Homo sapiens: one gene and its partner. The protein of the gene in region 2 interacts with the protein of the main gene of each other region in a pairwise test. Each region holds a gene or a part of one and is shown on either strand. Other genes may lie near its edges. The genes, in order: DELE1 and LSAMP.

Region 1 (3,820 bases), on a different chromosome or scaffold from region 2:
CTAGTCAGAAAATTCAGATAAGCTAAAATTTAAAAATATAAACCAAAAATAGAAACATAAAATCCCAAGAAATTCAGCCTCCTAAAGATCATTCTTGCTTAAAATTTTAGCGTACAGCCTTGCAAATATCTTCTCACATATATGTGTTAGACATACTCACACACATACCTTTTAGACATCTACGCATTTGCACGCACATATGTGTGGGGGGGGGCAGAGAGAGAGAGAGACTTAGATCACTCTATACTACTTTATAACCTATTTTTTTAACTTTAATAGTACACCATGAATGTCTTTCCCTGACATACAGATCTAGCACATCATTTTAAGGCCCAAATAGATGTAATTAACCAGTTTTCCATTGAAGAAACTTTCAGGTTTTTTTGGGTTTTTTTGCCTTCACATACAACTCTACGAAATACATTCTTATATATAACCTCTTTGTGTTCTTATCCCACTTTTTAAAAATTAATTAATCCATTCATCAAGATGCTATTCTAGGCTGAGGATGTAGTTGCAAAGAAGAAAGGCAAAATCCCTGCCCTCCCTGAATTTTGAGTCTAAATTCCTGGAAGTTAGGAGCTTCTTTCTTATTTTTCCTTCGCAGCTGGGCTAGAACCAAGTGGAGAAAAGAAGCCAAACTTTCCCCCATCCCTGCCCACTGCTCATTTCTAGACATCAATCTCAGCAGCCCAGCACAGAAGGCAGGCTTGGGGGCAGGGGAATACCTTGCTAATGTCCCTGGGGGTGCCTCTGCCATGCTCATGACACAAGCCCGCATTGTACTGCGCTTTGCTGTAGCCGCGGGCTGCAGCTTTCTGGAAGTAAGAAAAGGCTGCCGTGTGGTCGCCACTCTTCATGTTCTCTGTTCCTGTAAGAAGGCACAGGGCACAAACACAGCTTCCTCAGTGAACTTCCCCACACCCTCAGCCAGGTACCTACAGACTCCTCATCTGATCCTCCTCCCTTTCTTTTTTTGTGCCAGACACTTTACATATATATATATATATATATATATTTTTTTTTTTTTTTTTTGAGATGGAGTCTTGCTCTGTTGCCCAGGCTGGAATGCAGTGGCGCAATCTCAGCTCACTACAACCTCCACCTCCTGAGTTCAAACGATTCTCCTGCCTCAGCCTCCCAAGTAGCTGGGTTTACAGATGCCTGACCCCATGCCTGGCTAACTTTTGTATTTTTAGTAGAGATGGGGTTTCACCATGTTGGCCAGGCTTGTCTCAAACTCTTGATCTCAGGTGATCCACCTGCCTCGGCCTCCCAAAGTGTCGGGATTACAGGCGTGAGCCACTGTGCCTGGCCTTTGCATATATTTCTATCTTCTAAATATTTCACTGGTTTGCCATGGACAGCAGTGGGTTCTGCCCTACTATAAACCATTCCTCCTTCTCTTGGTAGTAGCATCTAGATTTCCCATTGGGAACAACACCTCCCCTAGTGCTGTCAATCAATGTGCTTGTGTTCTTCCTAACCACGGAGGTTCTTTCTCAGGAATCTGAACCTTGATCTGGTTGGGACAAGGAGAGAAAACAGCCCTTGTAGGTTTATTCTGACAGCAGCACTCTGAAGATACTATCAGCTGCTGCCTCTTAGGTCTCTGAAGCTTCCCTGATTCCTGTCCTTTCTGAGGCTTGGCAGGTCAATAGATCCCAATAGATTCCTTTTATGTTTAAGTTAGCCAGAGTGGGTTTAGGTTGCTCATAACCAACAAACCCTAACTGATACAAGTGATACTGTTAATCTTGTTTCATGAAGAAATTGGGAGCGGTAATACAGCAGTGTCAAGACCTGAATGCAGGCACATCCAACCCCAAAGTCCATGCTCTTTTCATTGCCCAAACAAAAAGGAAACAGGAAAGGATGAGGGCACGGCCAATTCTCAACTCAAGGCCTTTGCTTCAATTGTCTCTCCTGCCTGGGATCTTTCTTTCCGCCTCCACCATCAAAGCTCCCATCCTGTGTCTGCTCTAAACCTTCGGACCACACTCAGGCTTAAACACTTTTTTGGCACTTACTTAATATACCAAGCCTTTTTCTACAAACTAAACCGTTTCAAAAGTACAAGTCCTGTCTCCTCAATTAGACTGTAAAATCCTGGAGGCAGAAGCAGAAAAAGAATGTAGAAGAAATAATTTTGCCTAGGGTGAAGGCGCCATACAAATGCAAAACATGATTATGGCTTATGCTCCTTTCGCGTTCTGCCACCATGCCAAGCGCTTGCTGAATAAATGAATATATGAATGAAGGGATGGGCAAGTAAATTCTGAGAAGAGACTCTTTGCCCATCAAAATCACATAAAGCTCATGAGGGAGAAACCAGGTTCCATTCAGCCAGCAGTGAATTAAATAAAGTTGCCTCCTTGCTGCCTGAAAACTCACTGTCCAGGGTTGACAGAGCCCTCTGCCCTTGGGTAGAAGACTCAAGAGTGCAAAGGATCCCACCATCCTCCTCTTTCCCACCTGGCTCATTAATATAACCAGATCCATCTACTCTTCTTGCTCTCTTCTTTCTCTCATCTAGACCATGCCACTGACATGTTTTGTTCAGCCGTCACCAACAGCGCCTGCCTCGTCTCCTTTTTCCCCCCGGCAATCCTACAATCCATGTCTGTCTACATGGCAGCCAGAGAGATCTTTGGAAAAGTACATCAGATCATGTGGCTGCCCCCTTTCCTGCTCCTGCTTAAAGCCCTCCAAAGACTTCCTGTCTCACTTAGAAAATCCACACTCTTTACTGTGGCTCAGAAGACCTCACCTGATCTGACCCCTGCCTGCTTTTCTGGCTTTATCTCCTTCCGCCCTTCCCAAGATCTCTAAGCTCCAGCCACACTCACCTTTCTTTTGTTCCTCTAGCAATCAAAATCCAATCCTGCCTCAGGATTTTCGCGCTTACTGTTCCCGCCACTTGGAAAGCTCTTTCTCCAGATTGAAACAAAAGTGGCTGTCTTTGTGACAGGTCTTAGATCAAAGGTCTTCTGCTCAGTGAGGACTTCTAAATCAAAAACTGCTCCTTGCTCAAGTCACTAACACATTCCTTTATTTTCTTCATAACATCTATCAACATCTGAAATTCTCTTTTTGTTTCTCAATTATTGTTTTTCTGCTCCCTGAGAATAAGGACTTTGTCTTGTAAATCACTGTATCCCCAGTACCTAAAACAGGAACTGGCAAAAGGTAAATGCTCAACAAATTTGTTGTGAATGAATCCCAGCCTCTTGCCTATCTGCCCACTAGACCCCAATAGATGCTGTGGGGAGTCTGAGTCTCCGCATTAGAAGGCCTAAAATGAGCCAAGTTACTGCAAAGAACAGGGCAAATGGTGGAAGGGTATTTGGAGTCCCCACATGAGGGTTAAGAGGTTCCTGTTCACACATCGAGGATCTGCTCCAAACCCCAGGAGCCTGTTCTTTCCTAAGTGTGGCAGAGAATGCTACGTGCCCTCCAAGATTATTTTTTCCTTCATACACAGTAACTAGTCTCCTCTGTGGCGAGGTGTGGCCATGTGCCTATATTCTGGACAAGGATTTGTGCAACGTCTAGATTAAAGGGAAGGAGTGATCCTTTAGCTTCCCTACCTTGCCCCGACCAGCTGGCTAGAATACGGACAGGAGGGCAGGAGCTGGAATTGCCAAACTGCGCCTCAAGATGGGAGCCAGTTTTAAAAATGGCAGGACACATCTGCATAAGAATGGGTCCCTGCCATGCCAGATTTGGTCTACCTACCTGGGAGAAAATAAAATCTCTCGTTTAAGCCACTCCCTATCTTGACTATATCTGAGCTACCCCATACCCTTTCCATTTTCCC
Region 2 (3,934 bases):
TTCCCATTATTGAAGCCCATCATGAGTGCTCATTCCTCCATTCCATCCCCCAGCCGCCTAACTTGGGATTAATTCTCATGGAGGTGTTTCAAAGTCAATTTGACTCCTAAGAGTAGCACTTCAGACGCTCCCAGTCACTCCTGATGTATGATCTTTGGACTATAGATTGCTTATTTCTCATTTTCTTTCTATGTGTCCTGTGTAATGCAATAGGGCTTCTATAGAGATTCAGGAAACATTTCGTGAAGATCATAGCTCTCAGCAGTAATAGAAAACAAACTGCATTTTTGTAAGTAGAAATAACAGGTGGCTGTAGAAGGTACCTTAGTTCCTTCTACTGCTATGAGGTAGCATCTCATTAAAACTAACCCTTAAAGATAACCACTACTATGGAGACTTTGAAGAAAGAGCATATTTTCTAATGTTTTTGGTATCATAACCCAAGGTTGCACTGAAGTCTAACAATCATAAGTGTCTTAATTATTTATAGCATTTCAGTGGTAATTTATACTTATTTCTTTCAGTCCCTTAAGGGAAAAAAAGAAAAAGAAAAAAAAAACACGTTTACAGAATCTCTTTGCTTAGGTGGAGAAAATTCTTGTAAATACCACGTTCCTTTCTGTGACAGACGAGGCATTGTTAGAAGAGCTTCAAGTGATTTTTCAGTATTATTTCTGCCCTTCCCTTACATGATATTCATATCATTGGCTTCATTTTCTCTTTTATTCATGAAAACCTCCAAGAAGCAGTGCAGTCAACCACAAGATCACTGACAGGTCAATGAAGACACATCTCCTTTTCACGTTTATTTCATTTTGTTTTAAGATCACAGAAGAGCAGAGCATTCATACGTGTAAAGTAACAGAAGAGAGAAACAGAATTTAAATACATTTAAAAAGAAAAGAAAAAAAGCTTTTTTTCATTTTAATTTTAATTTTTTTTTTTTAACACACATTGCGCTTTTTATCTCCTTCACAGAGCTAGTACCCAGGGAAAAAAATCCACCTAATAAACAAAAATGAAAAACCTTGAAAAACAAAAAATCCCAAACAAAAAATGGCCATGTGTTTGTATCTTCAAGGGAAGATCAGTTCATGTCTACAGGGCTGAAAAAAGGAATATATTTATATATATATTTATATGTATATAACACTGTTAATAAGGAGAATTCTAACCAAGAGCAGGATTTATACACCCTTCAGTAGAGCAGTGATAAGGAAGGTGGGGAGCATTGGGAGATGGGGGAGGGAGTTGGAAGTGTTCTCTTTTGCTTCTCTCCCCCTGAATTTCTTCCCTTTAACCTCCCTACTCCAAGTAAATACTTAGGGAGCAGAACTTGGCCACAGTTCACCAGGATGAACAATTTCCATTCTCTGGTGAAGAGCAAAGACTTAGGGAAGTGGGTTCAAAAGAGGCTCCTGGTAGCTTGGGATTGCTGCAGCGTGCCATGAAGCTAGGACTTCCATGGGTTTTCTTCACTTGCAAGAAGCATATTTGTACTGTGCCTGGCTTTACATAGGGAGGATTGTGCAGAGTAGAATGTGGCTGTAGAAGTAGATCCAGGAGCACTGCCCAAAAAGAGGTACTTCTGAAATGACCATGAAAACGGGGAGTTGTCCCATGGACAGGTCATTCTCCCACTTAGAGAGAGCTTCATAAGTAATCTAAGCACATCATATATCCTTACCTACACAAAGTGATGTGATTGCTGGGAAGTGATGAACAAACCCTACTCTTCAGTGACTGGAAACTCTGATGCCTTCTGTTCTTTCAGACAATAAAATCAAAGGACAACTTTGGATAGATGCTAACCTGAGCCTCTAGGACAGCTTAGGACAAGAGGATCTGTGCTCAATGCATCTAGAACATGGCACAAGAAAATAATTCCTTATTAATTGCTTGAGAAATCATCCTTTCTGCTTACCCTTTTCTCAGAGAACCTAACTTTCACATTTGATTTTGGCCTTCACAACAATTCATACTGTCTTCAACTCTGTAACCTCCTAAATTGTGTTTATTTTTGTTTTATTTTCAGCTTGTCTTCTTTAAATAGAATTGACTTGTACTTTTTGAAAACAATACTTGTTTTCTCTCCATCTATTTGCTTTATTTCATAGCCTATAATTCAAGCTTTGGGAAACTTATCCCATGAGAAATTCCTTCCAAAACAAAATGTATTGTCTTGCCCATTTCTTACAGTTCAGCCTTTGAACCTGCCTGGGACCCCATGCTTACCGCCATCAGCACAAGCAAAGAGTTTCCAAAGACACACATTTACTGTAATGAGGTACTTGGCCCAGGATGACAGAAAACTAATGTTTCCTTTCTTATGCACAATGTCCTCATTTGTTACATGCATAATACCCAGTCTGGCTATTTTCCTTCCTATGAAAGATTATTAGAATATAGTTCCACATTTAGGTTTTATAATATAAACAAGGAAACAACCCCAGCTATGTCAATGTCCTTAGTGTAATTTGAATGTGTCCCTTCTCTACACTGCTATAAAGTTTTGATCAGAAAAAATTTACAGACCCAGTCCAGAGTCCCTGTATTCTAGCAGTTTTGGGTTTAGAAATGAAGACGGTAGAATGATAGTTCTGAGAAGTGATGAGAATACAGAGACCAAACTAGAGATAACAAACAGCTGCTGTTTACAAACAGTGCTGGGCACAGCACTAAGTGAATATTAAATTCTTATTCAGAATAAAGGTTAGAGTTGAAAGAGATTTTAGAGACGTCAGCCGAATCCCTCACTTTCAGGATGAGAAAACCAAGACTCAGGAAAGTTAAATGACTTGCCAATGTCTCACAGCTTTATTTGTGGCTGAACTTGGGGTTAGAACCCAATTCTCCTGACTCCCAATTCAATACACCTTCTACCTCACTTTAAAGTTGTCAGTTTATCTTAGATGATGAGGAAGCAGTACCAAGAAGACACTTGGGGGTTGATACAACAGGCACATGAGCCCTTAAAACTCCTTCCTGTTTTTTTTCTTTTTTTTTCTCTTAGGTAGATTAGTGCATTTAAAGCCTGAAGTTAATTTGACCTAAAATTTTTATAAGTCTTTGCAGAAAGTTCACTTGTTTCCTGAAATCATCTCCTTGATAATTTTTTATGTAACAGTTGTTCATATTGTAGGAATGATATATATGTCATCCTGTTACACGTGTCAGGCACTTCAAAAAGACTCCAAGAGAACATGCCTGAGAAAGATAACTCCCAATTAAAAATGATTCAGTCCCTCACTTGCAATATTCAGGATAAATGTGTGGAAACATTAGGCTACCAGATAAATAAAAGGTAGTTATTTCCTAGGGTGACTCAGCAAGATATTTCTCGAGGATATAACATTTTTTATATTGCACAATTTCTTAGAATCCAGATGGCAAGCTTTCCCACTGCTTTTGTTGAATGGAAAATAAAAACTGAGTAATATTTTGCTCATCAAGGTTTAGGTCACTTCCTTGGAGCTATTTAAATAAGACATCTTAGATGGTGAGAAAGGAGTAAAAAGAAGATAGCTGGGAGTGGATACAGCAGACATATAGCCCTTAAAACCTTTCCCTCTATTTCCCTTGCTTTGGGGTCGGGTGAGACAACTACAGCAACAGTTGGGACAATCTCCACTTAGATCCTGAAAGACCAAAGAGGTGACTTGAGCAGGATATAAACCTTGAACTGTTCCTGTGGGTCTGCTTCCTTTGGCTAAGGCAACCTCATATTTGGAGCTTTAGTCGTAATTCTTCCGATTCTGAACTGTGAAACGTTTCAGTTTTTATTTATTTTTATTTGATTTTTTTTTCCTTAAGAATCATAGTAAACCTTAGCAGTAGTTGGGCACTGCATGAAAAATGAAGTTTACATAGTTTATATTATGTACATAAACTAGTGATTTACATTGATTTACACATGATTGGTGCCTAATTTATT

What was found.
Region 1: the proteins of LSAMP (region 2) and DELE1 interact in a two-hybrid assay, tested with the Homo sapiens proteins (one large-scale study listed by IntAct).

What each region holds. Positions count from the first base shown.
Region 1 is NC_000005.10:141,930,310-141,934,129, reverse strand, and holds part of DELE1 (death ligand signal enhancer precursor), read right to left. Parts: intron 3,180-3,820; coding exon of another isoform or gene 3,073-3,179; exon of another isoform or gene 2,850-3,072; intron 872-2,849; coding exon 729-871; intron 1-728.
Region 2 is NC_000003.12:115,801,593-115,805,526, forward strand, and holds the end of LSAMP (limbic system-associated membrane protein isoform 1 preproprotein), read right to left. Parts: 3' UTR 782-3,934; downstream 1-781.